Homo sapiens: one gene and its partners. The protein of the gene in region 3 interacts with the protein of the main gene of each other region in a pairwise test. Each region holds a gene or a part of one and is shown on either strand. Other genes may lie near its edges.

Region 1 (7,991 bases), on a different chromosome or scaffold from region 3:
CTCTACGAATAGTTTTTGTTCTTGAGCCTGGCAGCCTTGCCCTGGGGGTTCTCTGCTCTGTCCTTGAGGGTCTCTAGGGGGATGTGGTGGGATCTGCTCGGTCCCTGTTACAGGAGCATCTAAAGAAAGGGAGGTTACTATTTTACCAGCTGGAGAGCTAATATCAAGAGTCTGTGAAACATTATTTGACACATCACCCGGGGAGTCACCTGAATCCTTCCTAGACTCCTCCTGAAATACGTTGGTGCCATTTTTGTTTGTAACTTCTCTGTCTCTTTCCAGAGATAGTTGTCCTTGTGGCTCTTCCTTTGTAGGGATAGAAGCTATCTTCTCTCCTGGATTTATTCCACATTCATCACTTCTAGGCTCATCTCTAGGAGACAACAAAGGCTCTGTGTATTTGGGGGCAGTTTCTTGTATATGATTTGTACAAAAAGATTCCAATCCCATTTCCAACTGGACATGGGGCTCCAACTGGAGCTCTAGTGTGTCTCCTTGAGAGACATTATTTAGTCCTGGGTTGCTGGCCAGGCAGGCTCTGTCTGGGTTAGGGTCACCACTGGAGAGGGAGAAGGAGCTGTCTCCATGCTCTATGGTTGGTTCTTTGGGGGCAATCCCATCCAGGTCTTGAGATAGAGGTAAGATTTGGGAAGGCCTTGCCTGAGCAGTATCTGGGCCAGATGAACCTGGGTTAGAACAGTGAGGAGTGCTTGCTGAGGAGCTGGCAGCAGGGACAACACCAGAATTCTCTTTATTGTTGGGGTCAATCCGGAAGCGAATGGCAGAAATAGAAGACACTCGAGAGTCGATGACTGATTTGGTTTCCATGGTCTCGGGCTCCATCTCCATGACCCTGGAGGCTGGGTTTGTGCTCTTGGTCTCCCTCAGAGGAGCCAGCAGCCCCAAGGCCTTGGTCTCCAGAAGGCCAGGCTCACCCTGCATGTCCTGCAGAGAGGACACAGTTGGGGAGGGTGCACCAAGGGCCAGGTAGGGCTCCCTGTCATAGTAGCACACGTCGTCTACACTCTCCAGGGAGGCTGATGGCACCAGGGGAAATGAGACCTGAGAGGTGTAGTCGGTCTGTAGGAAAGACCTTCTTTTCCTCAGGGTCTTGGCATATTTCTTCACCCCTCCCCTCCTGCTTGGCTGTCTTCCATCTGGCCCACAAGGCAGGCTGTTCTCAGGGCTAGAAGTGCTGGCCTTATTCTGCAAGCTTGTGGCACTGGGTTCTGCAGTAGAAACATCTCTGGGCCCTGGGAGTCAGGAAAGAAAAAATACATTAAAAAGCACAAAAAAAAGAGGTTAATAGAGCTTGGGCTCAGGCCTTGGGCTTTCCTGGGTTTAAATTCTGGCTAGGCTGTGTAACCTTGAGCAAGTTCAATCCTGATCTCCTCAACTTCCTCATCTGAAAGATGGGGATAATAATTGTGACAGATTTTTTTTTATTTTTTTGAGACGGAGTCTCTTTCTGTCACCCAGGCTGGAGTGCAGTGGCGTGATCTCGGCTCACTGCAACCTCTGCCTCCCAGGTTCAAGCAATTCTCCTGCCTCATCCCCCCGGAGTAGCTGAGATTACAGGCATCTGCCACCATGCCCAGCTAATTTTTGTATTTTTAGTAGAGATGGGGTTTCACCATATTGGTCAGGGTGGTCTCGAACTCCTGACCTCAAATGATCCGCCTACCTAGGCCTGGGATTACAGGCATGAGCCACCGCGCCTGGCCGACTTTTTTTTTTCTTTTTTTTTGAGACAGGGTCTCACTCTGTCCCCCAGGCTATAGTGCAGTGGTGTGACGGCTCACAGCAGCCTTGAACTCCTGAGTTCAAGCAATCCTCCCACCTCAGCCTCCCAAGGTGCTTGGATTATAGGATTGAGCCACTGCACCCAGCTGTGATAGACATTATTAAATTTTTGGATGCCTAAGATCCATTTAATTATCTTTTGGTCACAGCATCTCAACTTCTGTTTAGGGAATGACATCTCCCCAATGGTTAGAGTCTGCTGGAACTGTTCACGAAGATGCTCTGTCCACGCCAGCCAATCAGCTACAAATTCTCCAGAATTCCAAACCCAAAGACATTAAAAAAAAAAAAAAAAAAAAAAAAAAAAAAAAAAAAAAAGCAGAGCCATTCTTTCCAACCACAATAGCTTGATAATACAGGTAGGGAATCCTGTGACTAGACTCTTAGCCTGGTTGCTGTCTATTTCTGAACCCAGGTCTTCAGGCTTGCCAGCAATTCTATAAACAATCTTACTTCCTAACACTTTTTCTTTGTGCTGATGTTAACCCAAGTCTTTTAGTGCCAATGGTGCCATTCAGTGCTGCCGTGCAGGTTAAAGGAATTAGTGCATTTTTATAAAGCACCCAGCACAAGGCCTCTGCCTCATTAGGTATTCACTAAAAGGAAGCTGCTCGTTATTGCCATTTCATGTCTGAATGTAAAGGGGCCACAACTCTGTCACAGGCATCGAGTTTTGTGCATCCCAGGATGGATCTTTCTGGGAGGAGAGGCACTATTGTAAAGAACCCTTGGGAATCAGCCAGAAGGAATTAGGATCAGAGCCTAGCACTTGAGAATCAGAGAGCTTGGGTAGTCAGACCAGTCATTTCTAACCTGGCTGTATGCTATTAGAAACCTTATCAAGTCCTAGGCTGCTCCCCACAATCTCTGAGGAGTCAGAATCTCTGAGGCTAGGGCCTAGGGATCTATAAGGTTTAGGTTTTTTTGTTTTTTGTTTTTTGAGACAGAATCTTGCTCTGTTGGCCAGGCTAGAGTTCAGTGGTGCAATCTCGGCTCACTGCAGCCTCTGCCTCCCAGGTTCCAGTGATTCTCCTACCTCAGCCTCCTGGGTAGCTGGGATTACAGGTGCACGCCACCATGCCTGGCTAATTTTTGTACTTTTAGTAAAGATGGGGTTTTGCCATGTTGGCCAGGCTAGTCTCAAACTCCCAACCTCAGGTGATCTGCCTGCTTCTGCCTCCCAAAGTGCTGGGATTACAAGTGTGAACCACTGCGCCCGGCCAAATCTATAGTTTTTAAACAAGGTCCCTCAGGTGATTCTGATGCCCAGTCACATTTGACTGCCCTAGGCTACTGACAGCCACCGACCAAGGAGTTTCTAAGTCCCAAAGACAAAGAGGCTCCAATAGTCAGTCAGGGGCCAAATCAGAACCCAGGCTGAGGAATCCTAGTTCTGGCTCTTTTCTCAGCACTACACTGGCTCCCTATAAAAAACAAAAACAAAAACAAAACAGTGTCTGGTATGAACCCCATATGTTCCTGACTAGACTCCCATAAAAGGGCCCTGACTGATGGTTTCTGCCACACTTCCATCCTGCCCCCCGGCACAATGGCTGGCCCTGCAGGGCAAGGCTGGGGCATGGAAAGTGGTTGTCTGGGTACTTTGGGGAGCAGTAAGGAGTCTGGCCATGGTTTCTCCTTTCCTTAGAGGTACAGTCAATTGAACTCAGTGTAGATGGTGGAGACTTCATTCATTCATTTAACAACAATTGCTAGACGCTGTGTGCTGGGGACACAGTGAGAAACACACAGTTCTAACGCTCAAAGGAGTTCTCGGTCTAGTGATGGAGAGAAACATCAACACAGAATCATACAAGTAAATATGTAATTTACAGGCTGTGCGAGGTGCCAGACAGGGAGAGCCCCAGGTAATGCAAGAACATGTGACAGAGATGGGGAGACTTGCCCTGGCCTGGGAAGCCTGGGAAATGTTCTCTGAGGAAGTGAATTCCAACCGGAATCTGATAGACGGATGGGCACCATCAGCCACGATCTGGGGAGGAGTGTTTCGGTCAGAAAGAGCAGCATGTGCAAAGGCTGGAGGAGGGGGAAAAAACAGGCACTTGTAGAAAGTGGCAAGGAGGTCTGTATGGCAGGAATGCAGGAGGAGGGAGAGAGACAGGCAGAGGCCATGTCACAGAGGGCCTCAAAGGGCCTGATGGGGCTCCCAGAGGAGCTGGCCTTTCTCTCCAGAACAGTGGGAGAGCACAGGAGGTCTGGGAATAGAGGATCAGAGAGCAGCAGGAAAGTGCCGAGACAGGAACAAGGGCTGCAGCTCTCCCAGCTCCTGGCAGGTCACCTTCAACATCCATGTGCTCTTTTCCAATATGTTTCCTTCAGAATGCAGTGTGTGTGTGTGTGTGTGTGTGTGTGTGTGTGTGTGTGTGTCCTGCCAGGATCTCAGTTCTGCTTGGAAAGACCCTCCACACTCTCGGTGGAGGAATGTATGAGGAACCTGATAGAAACACAGCCACCAGATCCCCTACCTTCTGATGTCAGGGTCCCTTGGACCCCAGAAGGCCTTGCAGGGCCACAGACGGCCTGTCTGTCTGGTTCTTCTTGCTTCAAGGCCTCCTTTAATGCAGCCTCAGGATCAGTGATGACATAGCCACTTCGCTCTGCCGGGCACTCCTGTCAAGCCCTTTCCTTTTTTGTAAATTCTGTCCCTCCCACAGGGCCCAGCCCATTTGCCCCCTCTTCTGGGAAGCCTTCCCTGATTCCCACTGTTGGATGAATCCCTCCCATCTGCTTGCCACAGTTGTCTGAACCTCCCTTGCAGGCCTGCCACGATGCCTAAAATTTGGTCCATGGAATCTGTATCTACCTCCTCAGAAGTGTACAGGGACCCTGTTTCACTCATGTGCCTTCCTCTCAAGCTTGGCCCCAGGCCTTGATCCCCGGGAGGCACTCAGGAGCTGCCTGCCGTGTCTGCAGACCTGCAAGGGACGGCTCACCTGACGGGGGGCCTGGGGGAGTGAGCTTATCAGCCGCGTCATAGTATTCCTCATCTGAGCTGCCATCCTCAAAGGCCAGTGGTGGGTGCAGGGCCAGGGGTTCCAGCATGGAACTGGGCTGGGCCTCAGTCCAGCCCTGCTGACCCCAGGCTGGCGGGGCTCCCCCTTGCCGGGAAGCTGTACTCTCGGAACTGTCACTCAGGTAGCTGGCCGGGGAGACACTGGAACACAGGCTGTAGTAGTCAGCGTGGCTGCCTTCATACAGCCTGGGGTCCAGCCTGACTGTGCTCAGTTCTGGTGCCCAGCCAAATGTCTCCAAAGCAGCACTCTCGGAAAACTCTGTCTTCTGGCACTGGGGGTTGGCTCTCTGGGCCAGGTCCAGGAGACAGAGGAAGCCACTGGTTTCAATCCCGCTTCTCTCCTCCTGGCTGTCAGAGTCAATGCTCTCTGCGAGGCCTGGCGAGCCAAAGTGGAAGAAGGTGGACCTGCTGGAGGAGCAGGTGTCTAAGTCATCCTCTTCCAGAGCGTCCATGGACTCACTCGAGCCACTGGTCCTGTAGCCGCGGCTCTCAGTGTTGGCTGAGTCGGACGCCTCGGACTCGGCACTGTCTGTCGTGCTGCTGGCCCCGCAGGTGCTGGGGCCCCTCCTAGCCACCTCAGGTGTGGGGCTGTTCCCAGGAGGCTGCTCCTCCTTTATGAGTGATCTGCAGGGTGCCAGTTTCACCAGGCGCCTGTCAGAGAGAGGTTCGAGTACGCAGTCCACCTCAGAGGACTCCTCTGAGTCACTGCAGGCCCTGGATTCATAGCCTGCAACACAGGGTACAGCAACAGTTACACAACAGAATTCTCCTACCTATGTGTCCTTCTAGCCCCCTGACCCCCACCCAACCCTGCCAGACGAGAAAACTGAGGGCCAGAGGGTGGCTGGCCTAAGACCGTCCTATACTGACGAACACGGGATCCGAGGGACTCCAGCTTCCATGTTCTCCCCATGCTATCAGACCGCCTGTCCCACATCTCTCTGAGCTAAAGGAGGCTGGATTAACTCCATCCCCACCTCCAAGGAGAACTGTCTGTTCATGGAAATGTGGTATTTACTTTGATTCCTCTTTGTGTGGGCAGCACTGCCCAGGTTTGCTAAGCCCCTCCCCAGACCTCAGTTCTATCCTGCCTGGGCGTCAAAGTCAGATGGGGAATCATATTTTAAAAATACAACAGATCCTTGGCCCTACCCCTGATGTACTGAGTCAGATCGCTAGAAGTGGGGCCTGAGAATCTGTATTTTTAGCAATTTTATGACGAGTACGAGGCTGCTAGGCTGGCACCATTCTAAAGCCTGGCCTTCTGGATCCATGGGTGCTATGGGCTTTGTAGGACAGTGAAAACTCATCCAGCGGCAGGTTCTCAGGAAGGATTAATGGTAGGAGGCTGGGGAGCACTGAGCCAGGTTGCAATCTCTTTATTCCTGTAAGCCTCCAGAGTGATCTTTCTCAAACTTCTCTCTGACCTCATCACACCCTGCTTAAACCCTCTGATGGCTGCCCTGCTTACGGGGAAGAGCCTGGCCTCCCCCACAACAGTTACAGACTCTCACAGTATGGCCTTGTTGCCCTTCTCACAGGATGGCCATGGCGCCTCATGCACAGTCTAGTCCTCCCTTGCCTCAAAGGATGGCCCTAAGGCCTCCTCTGCAGGCTCTTCCCCCTCTCCCAGGATGGCCCTGAACCCTCCTCTGCAGTCTAGTACCCACGACAGGATGGTCTTGACACCTCCCCTTCAGTCTAGTGTCTCCCTCACAGAATGGCGCTGAGGTCTCCTCTGTAGTCTAGCTGCCCTTCTCGTGGTGGGGCTCCTATCTCTTTTCACCATCTCCCTTTTCCCCTCTTGCAATATGGTCCAGCCCCTCCTCAGGCACCCAGTCCCCCATGGCAGCCTTCCCTGCCACGTTCCAGCCACCCATAGGGAGAGCTCCTTTCAGGTCATGGCCTTTTCCTCGGGTCATTCCTCCAGGCCCCCTCGGCCTTGAATGATCTGTCTTCCTTTTCCGTGCCTGGTTAACTCCAGCATGTTCTTCAAGATCTATTTCCAATACCTCTTCCTCTAGAGAACTTTCTCTGACAGGCAGCAGCAGTCCCCCCCACAACCCCTCCACAACAGCCCTGTTGCCACTCTGCGTTGTCTCCCTGAGCAGACTCTGAGGAGTCACCCCTCGTTCATAAATACATTGTGTAACAACAAAGGTAACAGGCTGGGCGCCGTGGCTCATGCCTGTAATCTCAGCACTTTGGGAGGCTAAGGTGGGCAGATCATTTGAGGTCAGGGGCTCGAGACCAGTCTGACCAACATGGCGAAACCCCATCTCTACTAATGTACAAAAATTAGCCGGGCGTGGTGGCAGGTGTCTGTAATCTCAGCTACTTGGGAGGCTGAGGCAGGAGAATCACTTGAACCCAGGAGGTGGAGGCTGCAGTGAGCCAAGATTGCACCACTGCACTCCAGCCTGGGTGACAGAGAGAGACTGCCTCTAAAAAAAATAAAAATAAAAACAAAGGTAACAGATACTCCAAACTCATCACTTTCTAACTGTTTTACTTATTGTATTAGTACCTATTCTCTTGAGCTGATTTCTACTTTATCCATATAGAGGAAACACTCTACAGTGGTGTGCTATTGATCACCTCTTCCCATCTCCACATTCATCATGGTATCATCATATCGTGGTAGCCTGAAATTACCCATCGTGAGAATGTTGACACCATGGAATTGGGCAATTCCTTCAAACTGTTTTTGTCCCTCTGCAGGGAGTTGTTAAGCATTTATCAGCACAGCCCTAGGTTCATGCTGCATCAATGGTGCTGAGGCAAAAGCCTGGCAGAAACTGGGAGCTGGCCTAGGAAACTGTCTTACCTGCCTTGCAGAGAAGTTCTTTTATACTTCAAGAGATTGCAAAAGAGTGCATAGGTAAGGAAGAGAAGCCAGGTCATCTACTTCCTGAACAAATAAGTGACATCTCTTTTTGATGAGAAATAATGATAATCTTTTTTTTTTTTTTTTTTTTTTTAAGATGGAGTTTCGCTCTTGTTGCCCAGGCTGGAGTGCAATGGCACGATCTCGGCTCACTGCAACCTCCACTTCCTGGGTTCAAGCGATTCTCTTGCCTCAGCCTCCCAAGTAGCTGGGATTACAAGCATGTGCCACCATGCTCGGCTAATTTTGTATTTTTAGTAGAGATGA
Region 2 (7,991 bases), on a different chromosome or scaffold from region 3:
CTTACTGCACTGAAAAGCCCTCTAATAAATGGCAGTGGGACACCACAGGTAAAATCTGAATGCCCTGAAAGGAACAGTCCCAGGTGGTGTGGAAATTATAAATCACGTAATTTACACTTGTGCTCAGGTATTCCTAGTGTGTTCTGAATGCAGTTTTGTCTTGAGTTCAGGAGCAAATAGGGACCCTTTCGGTGATACCCACTTGGCAATCTGAGTGAGTTGTACATCTGGAGGATGTAGACTCCTTGGAAAGAGATGCCTAATTCCAGTCTAAGAATACTGACAGGTCATGGGGGTAGACAGAAGATCTGCTATCTAACTTGCAGGGGGAGTCAGCAATAGACCTAGTCTTAGGCCAGAGGCCTAAGGTGGGAAAAGAAAGGGGTGGCGCTGGGGCCTATGATGTACATCAAGCATCTGCAGAAGGCATGGCACCTAAAATGTGGGTGGAGGCCTCACTGTATGCTGTGGAGGCCACAGGAGATGAACATGGAACAGTCAGATGTGGTCTGAGCAGAGGTGCCAAGACAGAGATTGGAGACTTATGGACAAGGCCAGTGCCAGCCTGGTCATTGCTATGCTGGTGGAAGGCCATGATGTTCAGCCTCAGCAGCCCAGGATGTAAGGCTATGGGGTGGGCCCTGTGCTTGCTAAGTGTTCTTCAGTGAGTATTGTAGCACTCTGGATTACTGCACTTTGACTTATCATAGAATATCTTAAATACACTTCTAACGACTGTTGGGACTGTGTGTGGTAGAGTGGGGAAATTTTTCTTATACTGTGGGATAACTGTGGGTTGCCTGAATGCAACCCCTGCTGGCACCCTTTAGAAATGCAATACAGGAGCCAAAGCCTACCTGAGACTTTTCAGCGATGGCCAAGGCGTGCATTTCTTCATCTCGAAGGACTTTCAACCATTCTTTCTCAATTTCCTTATTGAGTGGCAGACCTTTTTCTATCCTGGAATTGCAAGTGAAGATGAAGTCTTCTTTCTCCCTGACTTCCTTTTGGAGTTCAATGGTTAGGGCTTGTTTCATGGACAGCTCAGCAACAAGAGCCATCATTTTCTCAGTTGCATTTTTGATCCTTCTTTGATAGCCATTCATCTAGAATTAAAGAGCCCAAAGCTTAGTCTATGTATACAGTCCACAAAGACTTAAAATGGCAGGCTGCTGGCTGTCTATAATGGCGGGGTGCATTTTTGTCTGAAGGAAGGAGGGTCTAACTTGGAATTCACAGAAATTAAGAACTGGAAGAGACTGCAGATATTGAGCCGAACACCCTGGCTGTGTAAGTAAGGACAAGGAGAGAACAAGAAAAGGATTTGTTTATCTAGTTACTGGATTTCAAGGTGAATAACATTGAGGAGAACAGTTTAGTGCCCATTTTTAAGAGGTAAGAAGGAGAGGTGAAGGGATGTTCTTTTTTTTTTTTTTTTTTTGAGACTGAGTCTCGCTCTGTCGCCCTGGCTGGAGTGCAGTAGCGCAATCTCAGCTCATTGCAAGCTCCGCCTCCCAGGTTCACGCCATTCTCCTGCCTCAGCCTCCCGAGTAGCTGGGACTACAAGTGCCCAACACCATACCCGGCTAATTTTTTTTGTATTTTTATTAGCGCTGGGGTTTCACCGTGTTAGCCAGGATGGTCTTGATCTCCTGACCTCGTGATCCGCCTGCCTCAGCCTCCCTAAGTGCTGGGATTACAGGCGTGAGCCACCGCGCCTGGCCAGGGATGTTCTTTAAAAAAAAAAAAAAAAAAATTAAAATAAAGACAAGGTCTTGTTCTGTTGCTCACACTGGTATATAGTAGTGTGATCATAGCTTACTGCAGCCTGGAACTCCGGGGCTCAAGCAATTCTCCTGCCTCAGCCTCCTAAGTAGATAGGACTATAGCCATGCACCACCATAGTTGGCTAATTTATTATTTTTGTAGCGATGGGGACTTGCTGTGTTGACAAGGCTAGTTTTGAACTCCTGGGCTCAAGCAGTCTTCCTGCCTCGGCCTCCCAAAGTGCTGGGATTACAGGCATGATCCACTGTGCCCAGCCAAGAGTGTTCTTGATGCCTAAATTCTAGTTTAATTTGACGTTATTAGTTTGTCACTTATCCAGGGGAAAAAATCTGGTAGAATTAACGTTACTCTTTGCTTATATAAGATAATCAGCAGAAGTTCTGCATCTGAAATGACTTTTTAAATGAAAACCATCACATTGACATGTTGGCATTATTGATCATAATTCCTGGTGTGCATCATTACTAGGTCAGAAACATGCATGAGCTGAGCTGGGGAATATTTAGTCAATAATTTAGAATGAGAGCTGTTCCTGGAGTGTTTTGTTTTGTTCGTTTGTTTTGAGACAGGGTCTCACTCTGTCACTCAGGCTGGAGCACAGTGGTGTGATCTCAGCTCACTGCAACCTCTGCCCCTGAGGCTCAAGTGATCCTCCCACCTCAGCCTCCCAAGTAGCTGGGACCACAGGTGTGCACCATCACACCCGGCTATTTGTTTTTGTATTTTTTGTAGAGATGGAGTCTCACCATGTTGCCTAGGCAGGTCTTGAACTCCTGAGCTCACGCAATCTACCCGCCATGGCCTCCCAAAGTGCTGGGATTACAGGCATGAGCCACTGCGACCAGACTTTTTTTTTTTTTAACCTATTAATATCAGCTATTTAGCATTAACACAGTTAAAAGATAAGACTAACTGGAAAAAAAAGATCTCAAGAGTCAGGAAAGAAGTAAAACTGGAATTAGGGGTTCCTGTAAGCTGTCTTATAAATGGTAGACTCTTTTAGTCTGATAGCCATAGTGGAGCAGTTCAGTGGTGATACCTTCTACCTGGCAACACTCATTAGTTCCTCTTACCTTGCCTTATTTTTTGTTCACATCATGTCTCACTGCTGATATTATATATGTATTTCACTATTTTTGTCATCCCATAAGAATGTACTCTTCATGAGGACAAGGACTTTTTGTTTTATTCATCATCATAGTCCCAGTGCTCAGGACAGTGCTTGGAATATAAGAGGCACCCCCCCAAATTAAAGTTCAATATTTTCTGAATGAAGGAATGAATGAACTCTTAGTTTGTTTCATTCTTTGTTCTTGGACCAGGATAAATTGGGACATGCAAATGAGCTTCCAAATACTACACTAATGCTGAATACCTTCCTCTCCTAACAGAGCATATCTGGTCACATCTGTACCTCTGTTTAGAAAAATGTTGCTGCTAGTGATTTACCTGCCTCTGAAAATGTAATAACTGATTATTATACACAAATTTTGCCTCCTTAATGGTAGGTAATATACATTTTTATGACTCTTCTATACTGAACTAATTTTTAAGCAGCATGTATCAAATAAAAATGACTACCACTAAAAACTTCAGTGAGTCATAAGTTTTGCCATTTTTATTTGACTTCTAGGCTTCTGCTTTGACAACTTCCACTAACAGACTGAACAGTCCAGCAGCATTGGTGCAATTCACAACTTTTAACTCATAAAATAAGAAATGCTAAGACTTAGATAAGCTAATGCACTTTGAGTAAATTAGCATGTCTTATGTTTCTTTAAATGTTGCTGCCTTTCCTTTTTTAAATGAATTTCCTTATCTTTGGGGGGAGTCATTTTCCACTCAACCACGGCACACTTTTTTTTTCTTCTTTTTTCTCATCTGTTTTTTAAAATTATACTTTAAGTTCTAGGGTACATGTGCACAACGTGCAGATTTGTTACATATGTATACATGTGCCATGTTGGTGTGCTGCACCCATTAACTCATCATTTACATTAGGTATATCTCCTAATGCTATCCCTCCCCCCACCCCATGACAGGCCCCGGTGTTCCCCTTCATGTGTCCATGTGTTCTCATTGTTCAGTTCCCATCTATGAGTGAGAACATGCAGTGTTTGGTTTTTTGTCCTTGTGATAGTTTGCTGAGAATGATGGTTTCCAGCTTCATCCATGTCCCTACAAAGGACATGAACTCATCCTTTTTTTGGCTGCATAGTATTCCATGGTGTATATGTACCACATTTGCTTAATCCAGTCTATCATTGATGGACATTTGGGTTGGTTCCAAGTCTTTGCTATTGTGAATAGTGTGGCAATAAACATACGTGTGCATGTGTCTTTATAGCAGCATGATTTATAATCCTTTGGGTATATACCCAGTAATGGGATGGCAACCACTACACACTCGAGTGTGTGTGTCCATCTGTGTAACTGGCCAACTTCCCTTCTCTTCCATAAATTAGAAAACAAAGTTTCATATTATCCTGGGTTGCTCCAAGTCTTAACTGAGATTTCCCACTTTCTGCTCCCATTTCTGTTGGGAAATTTGCAGGAGGCGCCATAAGCTATCTAGGAGAAGTGAGACACTTGAGGAGATGTGCAATCTTTTTGAATGTGGCTAGGTCACTTACGTGTTCGACTATGTAATACTTGCAACAACTTTGGCTATCACACCCATTACACAGATGAGCAAACTGAGTTTTAAGATCATTTATCCATCTTTCTCAAGGTCATTTTCTACTTTTGATAAATCATAGATCTGGAATCTGAATGTCTTTCTACTTTCCAGTTCTGCCTACTATGAGATTATCATTTTAAATGGAGTGGGGACAGTGAAAGCTGGGGAGGAGGAAGAAGCCAATGGAGAGCATGGAAGGTAGGGAAAGGAAAGGGGAGAATAATTGTTAGACTAGGACTCGGCTGTGCTGGAGCTTTCCTGGCTATGGGAAGCGGCCGCTATGTACATTTCTTTAGCATTACTGTTGCCTTCCAGGCGACTCTGCCATCAGCTTTGATAAGTCAGGCCTCAGTGAAAAATGACTTCCCCCAAAGAAAGGGAAATTCATTTTGCAAAAGGAAGGAAGGCAACGTTTATTTAAAGAAATATCAGACATGCTAATTCAGGCAAAGTGCATGAGCTTAACTGAGCCTTCGCATCAGTCCAGTGGCAGACGTGTGACTCACAACTTTGTACCTTAGTTTGGGAGGCCAAGTTGTGATTTGCACACCTGCCACTGGCCTGATCAGTCTAGTCATGGAAGTCATCAGAGCAGAAGCATAATAGTCAAATAAAAATGGCAAAGATAGTCTAATATTTACAATCATTTCTTGTTTAGTGTTCCACATGTGCTTCTAGAACAGAACTGATGATTACTCATCCTTGAAGTGTTTTTCTAGAGTCTGGCACATGCTAGGCATTGGAGAAATTAAGAACGAGGAACAGCTGCTGCCCTCAGGAGCCCACAGTCTCTGGTGTGGGTATTACCATTATCTGTTTTCATCTGTCTCCCCCTACTAGACCCTATGAGCTTCCTATGGTGTAAACAATGTGTCCCTTCCTCTTTGTTTCTGAACTCATGCCTAGCATGAGAGTAGCACATAGCAGGTGTTCAGTAATTACTGTTGACTGGCTGAACTCTCTGCATTGACGGGATGCTCCAGGGAACCCAGAGGCCAGGTGAGTGGCCAGTCCTCTGATGGCTCTATGGTATGCATGAAAGGCCTCGCATGAATGGTCTTGTGTAGGGGTAGACTGAGGAAGGAGTGAGTCCCGTGCCTGCACGGACATGACCCAGAAATGGGTGTACAGGCTGATGGGGCAATTCCCCAAATGAACCTTTGTTGGAAGCAGGAGTCAGAGCCACAGGAAGCCTGGCAAGACCTGCAGGCACCATGCTTCCTGCACAGCCTGCAGAACCATGAGCCAAAATAAACCTCTTTTCTTTATCAGTTACCCAGCCTCAGGTATTCCTTTACAGCAATGCAAACGAACTAATAGACAGCCTTCACCTCTTCATTGCAGGTTGTTACAGAGACCAGGGTAACTAGCATGCAACATGCTGGGAGTCCAGGGGGACTTCTAGGGGCTCTGCTGGCTGCTCCTTTCAGTGCAGCTTCTAGCAGTCCCACCCTGACCCTGAGGCTCTGGATCTGCTGTCCTGGTCTCTTACGCTTATTAAATTAGGGGGTTCTGTATTCCTGGCCTTTCCTCACTAGTGGTGCCTGGTGGGCACCTCCATGGTGCAGTTGGTCTGGGTGTTGTGTGACTGCATTTCTCTTTATCAGTCCCTTTCAATTTCTGGGTTCTGGCTGAGTTCTGGATTGGAGCAGTCCCTACTAAGATCACTGGATAAGTGAGGCGCTCCACTTAAAAGGAACTAAAAAGGATTTAACTTTGTGCATGAAATACAAAGATAATAACTGTCATATTTGGGTAGTTGCCTTGGTAAGTGAAACTTGTATAGTGTCATTTAAAAGCCTAGGTTTTGCCACCGTGAAGTGAATTAATTCAGGGAATAAGATTGAAACATTTTGGACAATTCTCTGAGTCATCCTTTCGTTTTTCTAAGTTCCCCTAGTCATAAAGCCTAATCTCTCCAGTGCTTCTCTCAATAAATCTGTCGGTCTGTGGAAAATAAAAGGTAATAAAGGAGCAGGGGCAGAAGGGAAAAGGCAGGGTCTCAGGCCTACCTTCTTGGCTAAGAGCAGTGTGTCCTGCTTGCAGCCCTGAGTTTTGCTGCAGAGCCTGTCTGTGAGCCTGGAGACCTGCTCATAGATGAAATCCTTCTCCAGCAGCTTCTCCTCCTTCTTGGCCAGTTGTAGTTCCAGCTATGTTTGAAAATTGGTTCAAGAGGAATAAAAAAAAAGTCATCTAAGACAAAATCTTATTTCCTAATTAGAGCAGTATCTCCCCCTACCCCCCACAAAATACCTCTGGAAAGTGTTTAGAGCTGGGTTAAGACTTTCCCTGCCCCAGCCCCTGCAGATACCTCTGGGAGTTCGAGTATGGCCCCCTCAGCTCTATCTAACATCCACATCACCATTCTTCTGATGTGCTCCCATCAGGAAGACAAATTAATCCATTTAAGATGCCAAAATTACTCCTTTGGGTCATGAGAGAAATGTGCCTTTGGAATCTCGAAACCACTGGATTGGAACTTCTTTTGGCAAGTGTCTAAATCAAGCTTAGAATGTATGACTAGATTACAACAAAAGGACTATATTAGTGACTAGAATAATGAAGGATAGGTCTGTCAGCATAACATGAAACAGTACCATAGGTATCTGTGAAACTACATCAACGAGGAGCTAACAGATGCAATTTTAAGCAATAATGTTTACCTTGTCTAATTTTTGGATCATTTCTTTTTCGGTCAGATCTTTCCCTGGAAGGAAGCGAGCTCTATTCTCACCATCAGGCTTTACGAACTGTTTCTCCAGGTCTTTAATTCTGTCTGTACACTGTGAAAACTATTAAGAAAAAAACATTAACTTTAAAATGAACGCTCTAGCTCAGTTAATCTGAAAATCACATTGCCTAGGGTCTTGAGAGTTTTTTAGTAGGACCAACCCAGACAAGGGTAGAAGAGAACTCTGTTTTCTTAACACCCCATCAGCTGGGACCTGGTTAAGTGACGTTTCTGCTCATTTATGGTACTGCGACGATGATGTCTATAATTCGATCATATGAGGTGAGGCAGTGCCTTCTGGGTCATAGAAAAAGCTGGTTTCACAAGCGGCCCTTGATTGCTTCCCATTTTGGGTCATGTTCATGGGATGCTGTGTGGTTGCAGGGCTCCAAGTATACAGCCTGATATGGTTTCGATGTGTCCCCCTCCAAATCTCATGTTGAATGAATATAATCCCCAACGTTGGTGGTGGGGCTGGGTGAGAGGTGTTTGGGTCATGGGGGCAGGATGGGGCCTTCATGAATGGCTTGGTACTGTCCTTGCAATAATGAGTGAGTTCTCAATCTATGAATTCAAGTGACATCTGGTTGTTTAAAAACAGCCTGGCTCCTCTGCTTCTTTCTCTTGCTTCCTCTCTCGCCATGCAATGTGCCTGCGCCCCCTTTGCTTTCCACCATGATTGGAAGCCTCCTGAGGCCCTCACCAGATGCAGATGCTGGCACATGCTTCCTACACAGCCTGCAGAACCATGAGCTAAAATAAACCTCTTTTCTTTATGTTATCCAGCCTCAG
Region 3 (8,785 bases):
CTTAAAGTCAACTGATGGTAAATGTCAATCACAACTACAAAATACCTTCACAACAACATCTAGACTACTGTTTGACCACACGGCTGAGCACTATAGCCTAGACAAGTTGACACATAATACTAACCATCGCACATATCTTACACCATACAAAAATGTAACTCAAAATGAACCACAGACTTAAATGTCAAAATTATGGGTTTTTTTTTTTTCTGTAGGAGAAAACAAAAAAAAATTGTGTTACCTGAGGTTATGTCTTAGTAAGCTCAGGCTGCCCTAACAAAATGCCATGGACTGAGTAGCTGAAACAAAACAAATTTATTTTTTTTCACAGTTTTGAAGTATGGAAGTCCCAGATCAAGGACTGGCAGGGTTGGTTTCTGGTGACGGCCTTATTCCTGGCTTGTAGATAGCCCTTTCTCAATATATCCGTTCTTGGCCTTTCCTCTGTGCATGTGCAGAGAGAGAGAGAGAGAGAGAGCTAGTGCAGGCACACAAGTAATTTCTTCTGTCTCTTCTAACTGCTTATAACCATACTAATCCTATGGGATCAAGGCCCCACCCTTATGACCTCTTTTAATATTAATTACTTCCTTAGAGGCCTCATCTCCAAATGCAGACACCCCGGGGCTGAGGGCTTCAAAGTATGAATTTGGTGGAGGACATAAGCATTAGCAAAGAATGCACACATAGATTAATAAAACAGAATAGAGCTCAGAAATAGACCTGCACACTTATAGTCAGGTGATTCACAACAAAGGCAATAATGGTGAAAGTACAGTTTTTCCAGCAAAAGGTGCCTGAACAATTAGACATCTACAGGCAAATTATAATAACCTAGAAACATCCTTACATATTCCAGAAAAATTAACTCGATATAAATCACAGACCTAATGCAAAATGCAAAAACTATACAACCCTCTATAAGAAAACATAAGAGAAAATTCACATAACTTTGAGTTCAGTGGTGAGTTTTTAAATTCAACACCAAAAGCATGATCAATGAAAGAAAAATTTACCAAGTAGATTTTATTAAAATAAACATCATGTGCTCTTCAAAGGACAATGTTAAGAGAATGAAAACAGAAGCCACAGACTAGCAGAAAACATCGGTGGTACACATATGTGATAAAGAACATATCTCTACAACATACACGAATTCTTAAAGTTCAACGACAGAAAAAACATGAAAATAGGCAAAGATCTGAACACACTCCTCACAAAAGAAGATATACACATGGCAAATAAGCATAAAAAAGTACTGAGAATCCGTTCTCATTAGATAACTGTGTACTAAAATGAGATACCACTACACACCTATTAGAATGTCCAAAATCCATAAAAAAGCAAAAAAAAAAAAAAAAAGAAAAGAAAACCAAGATCAATTGCCAGGGAAGATGTGGAGCAACAGAAACTCTCATTCATTGCTGGTGGAAATGCAACATGGTACAGCCACTTTGGAAGACAATTTGGCGTTTTCTTAAAAAACTGAACACAGCATAAGATTCAGCAGTCATAATCAATTTACCCAATTGACGTGAAAACTTACGTCTACATAAAAATTTGTATACGATTGTATACAAAAGATTATTTCATAATCACCAAAAATAGAAGCATCCAAAATGTATTTCATTTGGTGGATGGATATATATATACACACGCACTATGGTACAACCAGACAATGATACTACTACTCCTCAATGAAAAGGAATAAGTTCTGAGCCACACAAAGTTATACATGACTCTTCAGTTCATTATGCTAGGTGAAAGAAACCAGTCTAAAAAGGCTACATAGTATGCGAGTCTATTTATATGACATTCAGGAAAAGGCAAAATTATAAAGATGAAACACCTATCAGTGGCAGCCAAGGGGGTTATCTGACAAGCACAGGGGATTTATCAGGGCAGTGAAACTAGTATGGTAATACTGTAATGGTGGATGCATGCTTGCTTTCATCTGAATATTTGTGTTCCCACAAACTTCATCTGCTGAAATACCAAGGTGATGGTATTAGGTAGAAGGTGGGGTATTTGGAGAATGACTAGTTCATGAGAGCAGAGTCCTCATGAATGGGATCAGTGTTTTTATAAAATAGACTCCACAGAGATCCCTTGCCCCTTCTTCCATGTGAGGACATAGGGGAAAGGCAACTGTCTATGAACTAGGGAGCAGGTCTCCATCAGACATGAAATCTGCCAGCACCTTGATCTTGGACTTCCCAACCTCTAGAATGTGAGAAATAAAGTTGTGTTGTTTATAAGCCACCCAGTCTACACTATTTTTGTTATGGAAGCCCAAAGGGACTAAGACAACGGCACGAGGCATTTGTCAAAACCCATAGATCTTTACAGCACAAAGAGTGAAGCTTAATGTATGTAAAGTCTAAAAGTAACTTAAGAAGTTGGAGAATCATGGGACAGAATGTAGAATGTTACACACACACACAAACCTAGCTGTATTATACATGTATGAAACCACTACAGTGAAGCAAGTGGCGGGAAAGTTACCATATTTGGGTACTCCATCAAAGAAATATGTTTTTTATAAAGTATAAGTCGGCCAGATAAGCATGTAAAATAGTTGAATATTTGATAATCATTTATATAATTTTTCAGATATGAAAACTATTGGGATTCTGTTTAATAAAACGTCCTTATCTTTTAAAAATGCATATTGAGTTATTTCGAGATGAAATGGTCTAATGCCTTAGATTCGCTCCACGTTATTCCAGAAGCTGATGTGCAGGTAGGCAAGTGTCTAACTGGAACCAGATTTGCTGTGTATTTAAAGTTGTTCATGCTGGGTATCTAGTATCCTGGGTTCATTACATTAGTTCCTATTATTCTGTATGTGTGAAGGCTTTCCCTAGTAAAACTTTTTTTATAATAAATATGCCATTAAAAGTGAAATCCTAAATGAAACTGACCACTTTGTAGAAATAAAATAAACCAGTAACCAAACTGATCCAAAAAGAAAAAGAAAACTTTAATTAAACTATAAAAACTGAAACTGTACAATGTTCAAAGCTCAAGCCACCTTCAAACATTCCAGGTTAGGCAGTATTGGAGGCCAATTCTACCAAATGATCAGGGAAAACTAACCACCATCTTATCTCATCTCTTCTAGAACATACAAAATATTTACAATTGTTCAATTCATTCTTCCAGACTAGCCCTCCTGGATTCAAAAACCAGATGAGGACCACATCCCACCCTTGATGGGAAAAAAAGCACACATTAAGTAAGCTCCCTTACATAGCAGCAAATATCCTACGTAAATTACTAGCATATTAAATAAACAGGCTCTGCCCAAGGAAATAACATACGGTTTAACATTAGGGGAAAAAAAAAAACGGTTTCATTGTAATTCCTTACATACAAAATGGAGGAGAAAAAAATTTGATTGCGTCAACGGGTACAGAAAAAGCTTTTTAAAGAAATTTAATATGAGTTCATGGTAAAAAAAAAAAAAAAAGTATTTAACCTATATTCAAAGAGAAATTGCACTTCCTAAAATCAACAGCAAACATACTTAAATGCAAAACGTTCGAATAATTATCATTCACGTCAGGAACGAGAAGTAGATGTAGGCTATTATCTCTACGATTGAAATCAGGATTGAGACACAAAGAGCTATAAGTACCAAAATGAGTAAGTGGTATGAATACTGGAAGAATATGTAATGTTTAGTGATAATACCATTATCGATCTTGAAAATTCAAAGGAAAAGGTATGTGGAATATTCAAGTGCATCGGCCTTCAGAACGAGGTGTGCAACAGATTACTACAGCAAAATCAAAATCTTCACCTCACGAAAGCAATAACTAACTACAACAATTAATAGACAATATGCCATTTGCAATAGCAACAAAATTCATGAATTGCCTGAAAAGAAGTCTAATAAAAATGTATAAGGTCTTTATAGAGACAACTGTCGAAGTATACTGACATATTCAGGTAAAAAAAACCTTGAAATACATAGAGGAGTATAATATATTCATTCATGGGGAGCACAACACTGTAAAAATGTAAACTCAGCTTAAATTATTTACAATTTAGTGCCTTACCTGTAGCCGCCGCCATTACAACAAATTTGGGCTGCTGTGCTCTGCTTCCCAAATCAAACCTGGAAAATTACAGAATGGAAACAGTAAATAAAAAACCAGTATCAGCAACAAAACAGGGAAAGCCCAGGGTGAGACTCAAGGCTGTGTTGAGCTGGTACTTGTGTTTGACACTTGCAGTGTTGGTTGGAGGGGGTTAGCAGCAGGGATGTTGGGGAGGTTTGTAGCCGGCCTACACGGTAGATGACAGAATGGGTAGAATAAAAGTTTGAAATTTTCCACTTCACTTCTTTGCACAATCTGAGGCAGCCTCTGAAAACACGATGCCAAGAGCCCTAGGTAATAGCAGGACACCAGGAAAATTTGGTTGGTTAAGGCAGTATGACTCCAGAGTTCTGCTAATAACAACCTGAAACCACCATAGTGGGAGAGGAATTACATTTTTTAAAAAAAAAAATTCTTTCAACAGAACACAAAGACTGAAATAGGAGGTCACTACAACCGCGGGAGCTGCCGCCCCGCCCTGCAGGGAGCACCTGGCCTGGGACCCGCAGGCATTCTCTACAAGGGGTGCAGCTGTGCAAATGCTCACAGGTGACAGAAACAGAGCATCTCCTGCCCATCACTTCATCCAACAGCCAGAGGTGACGAAAACGACCCTCCTGAGTGAGGACTGAGGGTCCACACCGCCCCCCCACCCCACACACCATAGAGGGACCACAGAATCCAGCTCAGCCCCTCTTGTCAGCCCTGGTAAACGCAGGCAGTGATGTCACCCAGACCACACCCCTTCCCCCAATGCCACTTCAGGGGGACTCAGAGTCAGAGACTTGGTCTGAGGGGAGCAGAAGCAATCTGCAGAGGATGGCGGTCCAGGCTCAGCCAGGCATCAACTTCAGGACCCTGAGGGATGACCGAAGGCCCCGCCCACCCACCCCCAACTCCCCCGACCCCACCAGGATCTACAGCCTCAGGACCCCCGTCCCAATCCTTACCCCTTGCCCCATCACCATCTTCATGCTTACCTCCACCCCCATCCGATCCCCATCCAGGCAGAATCCAGTTCCACCCCTGCCCGGAACCCAGGGTAGTACCGTTGCCAGGATGTGACGCCACTGACTTGCGCATTGGAGGTCAGAAGACCGCGAGATTCTCGCCCTGAGCAACGAGCGACGGCCTGACGTCGGCGGAGGGAAGCCGGCCCAGGCTCGGTGAGGAGGCAAGGTAAGACGCTGAGGGAGGACTGAGGCGGGCCTCACCTCAGACAGAGGGCCTCAAATAATCCAGTGCTGCCTCTGCTGCCGGGCCTGGGCCACCCCGCAGGGGAAGACTTCCAGGCTGGGTCGCCACTACCTCACCCCGCCGACCCCCGCCGCTTTAGCCACGGGGAACTCTGGGGACAGAGCTTAATGTGGCCAGGGCAGGGCTGGTTAGAAGAGGTCAGGGCCCACGCTGTGGCAGGAATCAAGGTCAGGACCCCGAGAGGGAACTGAGGGCAGCCTAACCACCACCCTCACCACCATTCCCGTCCCCCAACACCAACCCCACCCCCATCCCCCATTCCCCATTCCCATCCCCACCCCCACCCCTATCCTGGCAGAATCCGGGCTTTGCCCCTGGTATCAAGTCACGGAAGCTCCGGGAATGGCGGCCAGGCACGTGAGTCCTGAGGTTCACATCTACGGCTAAGGGAGGGAAGGGGTTCGGTATCGCGAGTATGGCCGTTGGGAGGCAGCGAAAGGGCCCAGGCCCTCCTGGAAGACAGTGGAGTCCTGAGGGGACCCAGCATGCCAGGACAGGGGGCCCACTGTACCCCTGTCTCAAACCGAGGCACCTTTTCATTCGGCTACGGGAATCCTAGGGATGCAGACCCACTTCAGCAGGGGGTTGGGGCCCAGCCCTGCGAGGAGTCATGGGGAGGAAGAAGAGGGAGGACTGAGGGGACCTTGGAGTCCAGATCAGTGGCAACCTTGGGCTGGGGGATGCTGGGCACAGTGGCCAAATGTGCTCTGTGCTCATTGCGCCTTCAGGGTGACCAGAGAGTTGAGGGCTGTGGTCTGAAGAGTGGGACTTCAGGTCAGCAGAGGGAGGAATCCCAGGATCTGCAGGGCCCAAGGTGTACCCCCAAGGGGCCCCTATGTGGTGGACAGATGCAGTGGTCCTAGGATCTGCCAAGCATCCAGGTGAAGAGACTGAGGGAGGATTGAGGGTACCCCTGGGACAGAATGCGGACTGGGGGCCCCATAAAAATCTGCCCTGCTCCTGCTGTTACCTCAGAGAGCCTGGGCAGGGCTGTCAGCTGAGGTCCCTCCATTATCCTAGGATCACTGATGTCAGGGAAGGGGAAGCCTTGGTCTGAGGGGACTGCACTCAGGGCAGTAGAGGGAGGCTCTCAGACCCTACTAGGAGTGGAGGTGAGGACCAAGCAGTCTCCTCACCCAGGGTACATGGACTTCAATAAATTTGGACATCTCTCGTTGTCCTTTCCGGGAGGACCTGGGAATGTATGGCCAGATGTGGGTCCCCTCATGTTTTTCTGTACCATATCAGGTATGTGAGTTCTTGACATGAGAGATTCTCAGGCCAGCAGAAGGGAGGGATTAGGTCCTATAAGGAGAAAGGTGAGGGCCCTGAGTGAGCACAGAGGGGATCCTCCACCCCAGTAGAGTGGGGACCTCACAGAGTCTGGCCAACCCTCCTGACAGTTCTGGGAATCCGTGGCTGCGTTTGCTGTCTGCACATTGGGGGCCCGTGGATTCCTCTCCCAGGAATCAGGAGCTCCAGGAACAAGGCAGTGAGGACTTGGTCTGAGGCAGTGTCCTCAGGTCACAGAGTAGAGGGGGCTCAGATAGTGCCAACGGTGAAGGTTTGCCTTGGATTCAAACCAAGGGCCCCACCTGCCCCAGAACACATGGACTCCAGAGCGCCTGGCCTCACCCTCAATACTTTCAGTCCTGCAGCCTCAGCATGTGCTGGCCGGATGTACCCTGAGGTGCCCTCTCACTTCCTCCTTCAGGTTCTGAGGGGACAGGCTGACGTGGAGGAACAGAGGCCCCCGGAGGAGCACTGAAGGAGAAGATCTGTAAGTAAGCCTTTGTTAGAGCCTCCAAGGTTCCATTCAGTACTCAGCTGAGGTCTCTCACATGCTCCCTCTCTCCCCAGGCCAGTGGGTCTCCATTGCCCAGCTCCTGCCCACACTCCCGCCTGTTGCCCTGACCAGAGTCATCATGCCTCTTGAGCAGAGGAGTCAGCACTGCAAGCCTGAAGAAGGCCTTGAGGCCCGAGGAGAGGCCCTGGGCCTGGTGGGTGCGCAGGCTCCTGCTACTGAGGAGCAGGAGGCTGCCTCCTCCTCTTCTACTCTAGTTGAAGTCACCCTGGGGGAGGTGCCTGCTGCCGAGTCACCAGATCCTCCCCAGAGTCCTCAGGGAGCCTCCAGCCTCCCCACTACCATGAACTACCCTCTCTGGAGCCAATCCTATGAGGACTCCAGCAACCAAGAAGAGGAGGGGCCAAGCACCTTCCCTGACCTGGAGTCTGAGTTCCAAGCAGCACTCAGTAGGAAGGTGGCCAAGTTGGTTCATTTTCTGCTCCTCAAGTATCGAGCCAGGGAGCCGGTCACAAAGGCAGAAATGCTGGGGAGTGTCGTCGGAAATTGGCAGTACTTCTTTCCTGTGATCTTCAGCAAAGCTTCCGATTCCTTGCAGCTGGTCTTTGGCATCGAGCTGATGGAAGTGGACCCCATCGGCCACGTGTACATCTTTGCCACCTGCCTGGGCCTCTCCTACGATGGCCTGCTGGGTGACAATCAGATCATGCCCAAGACAGGCTTCCTGATAATCATCCTGGCCATAATCGCAAAAGAGGGCGACTGTGCCCCTGAGGAGAAAATCTGGGAGGAGCTGAGTGTGTTAGAGGTGTTTGAGGGGAGGGAAGACAGTATCTTCGGGGATCCCAAGAAGCTGCTCACCCAATATTTCGTGCAGGAAAACTACCTGGAGTACCGGCAGGTCCCCGGCAGTGATCCTGCATGCTATGAGTTCCTGTGGGGTCCAAGGGCCCTCATTGAAACCAGCTATGTGAAAGTCCTGCACCATATGGTAAAGATCAGTGGAGGACCTCGCATTTCCTACCCACTCCTGCATGAGTGGGCTTTGAGAGAGGGGGAAGAGTGAGTCTGAGCACGAGTTGCAGCCAGGGCCAGTGGGAGGGGGTTTGGGCCAGTGCACCTTCCGGGGCCCCATCCCTTAGTTTCCACTGCCTCCTGTGACGTGAGGCCCATTCTTCACTCTTTGAAGCGAGCAGTCAGCATTCTTAGTAGTGGGTTTCTGTTCTGTTGGATGACTTTGAGATTATTCTTTGTTTCCTGTTGGAGTTGTTCAAATGTTCCTTTTAACGGATGGTTGAATGAGCGTCAGCATCCAGGTTTATGAATGACAGTAGTCACACATAGTGCTGTTTATATAGTTTAGGAGTAAGAGTCTTGTTTTTTATTCAGATTGGGAAATCCATTCCATTTTGTGAATTGTGACATAATAATAGCAGTGGTAAAAGTATTTGCTTAAAATTGTGAGCGAATTAGCAATAACATACATGAGATAACTCAAGAAATCAAAAGATAGTTGATTCTTGCCTTGTACCTCAATCTATTCTGTAAAATTAAACAAATATGCAAACCAGGATTTCCTTGACTTCTTTGAGAATGCAAGCGAAATTAAATCTGAATA
Region 4 (4,895 bases), on a different chromosome or scaffold from region 3:
TCACATATAACATCATACAGTGATTTTTCTACCCTCTGTCAGGGCAGATTGCCCTTGAAGCGCTCCCTAGACCTGTCCCTGACAACCTGTTCTACAGAAGAGATCTGAGACTCAGTCACAATGGCAGAGGTGACCGAGACCAGCTCAGTTTTGGAAATCATTTTCAGAAATGGCTAGAGAGAAGTGTGTGTGTGTGTGTGTGTGTGTGTGTGTGTGTGTGTGTGTGTGTGTGTAATATAGTGAAACAAATTTTCTATCCTGTTTTTTCATTTAGCATCGTGTTTCAAATATTTTTACATCATTTATTATTAAAGTTCAATTTTAATGAATGTCATATTGGATGGGAATCAGAATTCTTATTTAACATTTTGCAGTTGTAAATAAGACCTCAGATGTCCGGGCTTGGTGGCTTACGCCTGTAATCCCAGCACTTTGGGAGGCTGAGGCAGGCAGATCACCTGAGGTCAGGAGTTTGAGACCAGCCTGGCCAACATGGTGAAACCCCATCTCTACCAAAAATACAAAAATTAGCTGGGCATGGTGGTGCACACTTGTAATCCCAGCTACTCGGGAGGCCAAGACATGAGAATCACTTGAACCCTGGAGGCAGAGGTTGCAGTGAGCCAAGATTGTGCCACTGCATAACAGCCTGGGTGACAGAGCAAGACTCTGTCTCAAAAAACAAAACAAAACAAAAGAAAAACAACCTCAGGAAACAGTTTATAAATCTTTTTGATGCATTGTTTATTTCTTTAAGAAAGACTTATAGAGGTAGTATGACTTGGTTAAAATATACTCTTGATATCAGCAGAAGTAATAAGCAGTTGAAAATAATTGAGAGTCATATGAGCGTTAAGTAAATTGATTTTCTGAGCAACACTTGCTACTTGCTTGATTCTTTACAAAGAAAGTCAATATTTAAAAGTATCCAGCCTACTTGGCTTACATAAAGCTTAGATTTAATGATGTCCATATTTACTATTCATACATTGTGTAGCAATTATATATAATTTTCCCTTTTTGATATCTCACATGATTTTGAATGTACTTAGTTTGAGGAGGATTTAATGATATTTTTAATTAATCCTCTCAATAATGTTTGAAAATGGTTAATAGGGTATATATTTGGGCATCTTAAAACTGACCTATTCTCTTTAGGGTAATTAAAAAGTCATCAAAGGTTCAGTGACCCTGCAAGGCAGTGTACACTTGGTATGTGTGAAATACTTGGTCATTATTAAGCCAGCTTTTCTTCAAGAGAGATACACTATTTAATTAAGGAATGTAATAAATCACTCTCTATTTTATTGTTATTGGTGTTAATGCTTGGTCTTGTAACTCTGCCCTGTCCACAGGTTAAAGTATTGCACAATCAGCTGGTCCTTTTCCACAATGCCATTGCCGCTTACTTTGCTGGGAATCAGAAGCAGCTTGAACAGACACTTAAACAGTTCCATATCAAATTGAAAACCCCTGGAGTGGATGCCCCATCTTGGCTTGAAGAACAGTAAAATCACAGCGGAAAATAAAAAGAAAGTCGCGTTGTTATATTTCTAAACCAACCTAACAAGAATTAAGCAGAGTTGGGGGAAGTGGGAGGGGTGACAAGCATTATAGTGATTCTTGCACAAACAGCTTTAATTTTTCCCTTTTTCATACTTTAACAATTGAACTGTTAAGGGTGGTTTTAATGTAAACATAGTTTCTATAATCTGAACACAATAATTTTCCTTTTTGAGAAATCCTTTTGTATTGTGAGGGTTGATGGCTATTTCTGTAGTTTGAAAACATCTAATAGAGATTTGCACTGACAAGATAAAAATTCAAGGTTTTTGGTCCTGGAAATGAGGGCCGATTGTAACTTTTCCAAAGGGAGGTTTACATGATTTGTATCAACATCAGATATTTTATATGTGAATATATTAAACATCTTTAAGAGATTCATTTTCATGTATTAAAGAAAAAAGAAACTATTTTGCAGAGTAAAGTTATATGGTGTTCCTGCAGCGTCCACACAGAGGCAGCAGCTCTAATGAATGATTAGCTTGTGGAGTTGTGGCAAATACCTTTTTAAAAATGAATCTGTACCACTGTAATTTTATTTAGACTTTTTTTTAAAGACACAGAAATCACACTGTCATTTCTGTGAGGCTTTTAAGCTTATGAATTTGCTTCACCCGAAGTCATTGGACAGTTACATTTGCAATTTCTTTTGGTTCATAACAAAACCTGCTTAAGAGAATTTTTTTTTTTGACAGGTGGACGTGGGAATGGAAATTCTTAATGGTTTCTGGAGTAGAAATCTGTACTTAGAAAACTAGTTTTTGGGTCAGTTCCATTTTGATAGAAGTGAATACATAGACAGCTTTTATTGACTTCCATATGTAACAATACCGTTTAAGCCTTAAATCACAGATATGTGCCTTCTCAGATACAGTAATTCTTGTTCAACCAATGTACAAAATCCATAAAGAAACCCCTGTTGGATAATGTTTGATGTGTCTATTCCTTCCATGGAATGGAGCACTATGTATGAATGTTGGGTTTCTTTGTACTTGTTAAGCCACATTTGAGGTTTATGGTAAAAATCATCTTTTGAGTTTGCTCTTTGGTTTTTCTTCATTCCTTTTGAGGATTGGGAAAACAGAAAGATTCTTTGATTTGGGTAATGAAGAGGTAATTTGGGACAGTGTGGTGGTACCAGGAAGAAAGAGGATTGGAAAGGCCAGTACTGTTTTAGTTGCTCGGCACTGTTGGTTTTGTTTTAATGTGGTTGCCCTGTCCACTACATGGTTCTATCAGTAGTGTAATCCATTTTCAATGTAAAGCTCTTTTAGTTTTTGTCATAGACATAAATTAATATTTTGAGAGGCATCCCTCACCTGTTCATTTCTTCTGTGTTGAAATGAAGTACTTAAAATTACCGTTATACATGAACTTTGTGGACTGTAAGATTTGTTATATATGTTCAAATGCCTTTTAGCTGGCTTTTTAATTAATATGCCTGTTTTGAGTGCTTAATACAATGTAATGTGATTGTAAATCATACCTATTTTAAATCATTCCTTCCTGTATATTTGTACTCAGAGAGCCTTATTTTATTCTTCCAGCAGAATTACTACTTGTGATAGTTCATTTACATTCCCCAGAATGTGCCTCTAGTGTGAATTTTGTATTCTTATTAAACGTGTTTGCTGCAGTAAATCGTTTCTCTGGACCTTCATAGTTTAAGAAGTAACTATTTGGAAATTCTGAAGACACATAATTTGCGTTTTCTGAACCTTAAAAAAAAAGGTACTTCTGTCACTTATAATTGTTTTAGCTCAGTAAGCTATTTTTTTTCAATGTGAATCTCTTTTGAGAGCTGAACATGTCCATTCTTAACCACATTTCAATAACAGTTACTGTAGCTAAGGAGCTAAATAGTTTCATGGATTAATTTTTTTCAGAATAAATTTAAAATATCCATGATTCTGATAGTGGGCACATGACCAAAAGAAAAAAGTAAATCAATATATTTAGCCAATGGTACATTTACTTTGTTAGGAATGTAATTTATGTTCATTATAGAAAAGAATTAGAAGAAAATTTCAAGTAATAGAAGATAAGTACCTTCCCAAGTGAATAAATACTGCATGGAACCACTCAACACCTCTGAAGTTGGATATTTTAGTTTTGGATTTTAATATACAAGCTCTATTTTGAATATCCTTTAATATACATTTACATCTTTGCACTTTTACTTACTTACTCCCTTAGGTTATAGTCCTAGAAGTGAAAATGGGCCCTCAAAAGTATATACATACTTCTAAAACTTTGTAATATATTGCCTGTTTGCTTTCAAGAAAGACTGTGCCAATTTACACCTCTAAGAGCATACACATGTACCTGTTTAGTATATTTTTTAAGCCAGTGCTGTATATATAAAATGAAATAATGAAAGAGAAAAACAGGAAGATAAAGGCTGAACAATCACCAACTGGAGAGTTTGGGGATGCTGGGTGTGAGAGCAGGGAATGGATGAAAATGGCTGGCTTTTCTGTCATTAAAATAGAAGTTGTTATTCTAGAAAAAATAATGCACTGAGGAACTGGTCTGTGAAATTAAACTTTTCATCCCAAAGCTTCCAAATCTTAGGGTCCAGGAACTATCTGGGTTTGCAAAAGCAATTTAGCTGAAATCTAGGCTTTAAGAAGCATCTTTTCCATATTCAAAACACACTGATAATGTTACTGAAGCTTATCCTATAGAGTGTGAAACTAGAATGTTCCTTAGAGATTATGTAACACACTTTTTTTTTAACAGATGAAACTATCAAGGCTTCAAAATATGTTAAACTGACTTAGCCAACCCCCATCTCCAAATGTAATGCTGGATGAGTATTTGCAACTATATACTTCAATTCCCCTTTAAATCCTGCCATTTCAACCGCATAATTAAATCAATGTGTCAAAAGTGTCAAGTTTCTTCTAAAGTTAAGTTTAATGTGTATTAAATATCTTCCCATTGGGGAAAAAATCCATCTCCCCGCAAATGGCTTCATACTAGGTAGATTGCAAAGTATGCAAGATGCTTGCCTTTCTATCCACTGACCTTTAACTTGCAGTATTCTGCAAAAGAAATCAGGTGAGCTTGAAAAGTGTTACATAAAGTAAAATTATGTATATTGAAAAAACTAAAGATAAATTTCTTCTAATCATGGAACTGTTAATTGAAAGAATAATGTAGCTACCTCAAAATGTGCCCATTCTTTAGTTTTCACTGGAGATGACTGTAGTTTTGAAAAATAAAAGTAAATTATCTGAGTTGCTAGTCATTCAAGTATAATTTATGCTAATTTCGTAAAGTACTACTTAAATACCTATTTGCAATAGTCCTAAATATCCTTTGCCAGT

What was found.
Region 1: the proteins of MAGEA6 (region 3) and FRMPD1 interact in binary tests that used the Homo sapiens proteins (3 or more experiments, as listed by UniProt).
Region 2: the proteins of MAGEA6 (region 3) and CCDC146 interact in binary tests that used the Homo sapiens proteins (3 or more experiments, as listed by UniProt).
Region 4: the proteins of MAGEA6 (region 3) and ARFIP1 interact in binary tests that used the Homo sapiens proteins (3 or more experiments, as listed by UniProt).

Annotation. Positions count from the first base shown.
Region 1 is NC_000009.12:37,737,651-37,745,641, reverse strand, and holds part of FRMPD1 (FERM and PDZ domain-containing protein 1), read right to left. Parts: intron 5,565-7,991; coding exon 4,758-5,564; exon of another isoform or gene 4,290-4,757; intron 1,254-4,289; coding exon 1-1,253. UniProt on the Homo sapiens protein: Stabilizes membrane-bound GPSM1, and thereby promotes its interaction with GNAI1.
Region 2 is NC_000007.14:77,286,067-77,294,057, reverse strand, and holds part of CCDC146 (coiled-coil domain-containing protein 146), read right to left. Parts: intron 7,261-7,991; coding exon 7,132-7,260; intron 6,619-7,131; coding exon 6,481-6,618; intron 1,107-6,480; coding exon 858-1,106; intron 1-857. UniProt on the Homo sapiens protein: Essential for sperm flagellum biogenesis and male fertility.
Region 3 is NC_000023.11:152,766,154-152,774,938, reverse strand, and holds the start of MAGEA6 (melanoma-associated antigen 6), read left to right. Parts: upstream 1-5,249; 5' UTR 5,250-5,285; intron 5,286-7,013; exon of another isoform or gene 7,014-7,077; 5' UTR 7,078-7,143; intron 7,144-7,223; 5' UTR 7,224-7,288; coding exon 7,289-8,233; 3' UTR 8,234-8,785. UniProt on the Homo sapiens protein: Activator of ubiquitin ligase activity of RING-type zinc finger-containing E3 ubiquitin-protein ligases that acts as a repressor of autophagy. May enhance ubiquitin ligase activity of TRIM28 and stimulate p53/TP53 ubiquitination by TRIM28.
Region 4 is NC_000004.12:152,908,709-152,913,603, forward strand, and holds the end of ARFIP1 (arfaptin-1), read left to right. Parts: intron 1-1,355; coding exon 1,356-1,511; 3' UTR 1,512-3,649; downstream 3,650-4,895. UniProt on the Homo sapiens protein: Plays a role in controlling biogenesis of secretory granules at the trans-Golgi network. Mechanistically, binds ARF-GTP at the neck of a growing secretory granule precursor and forms a protective scaffold.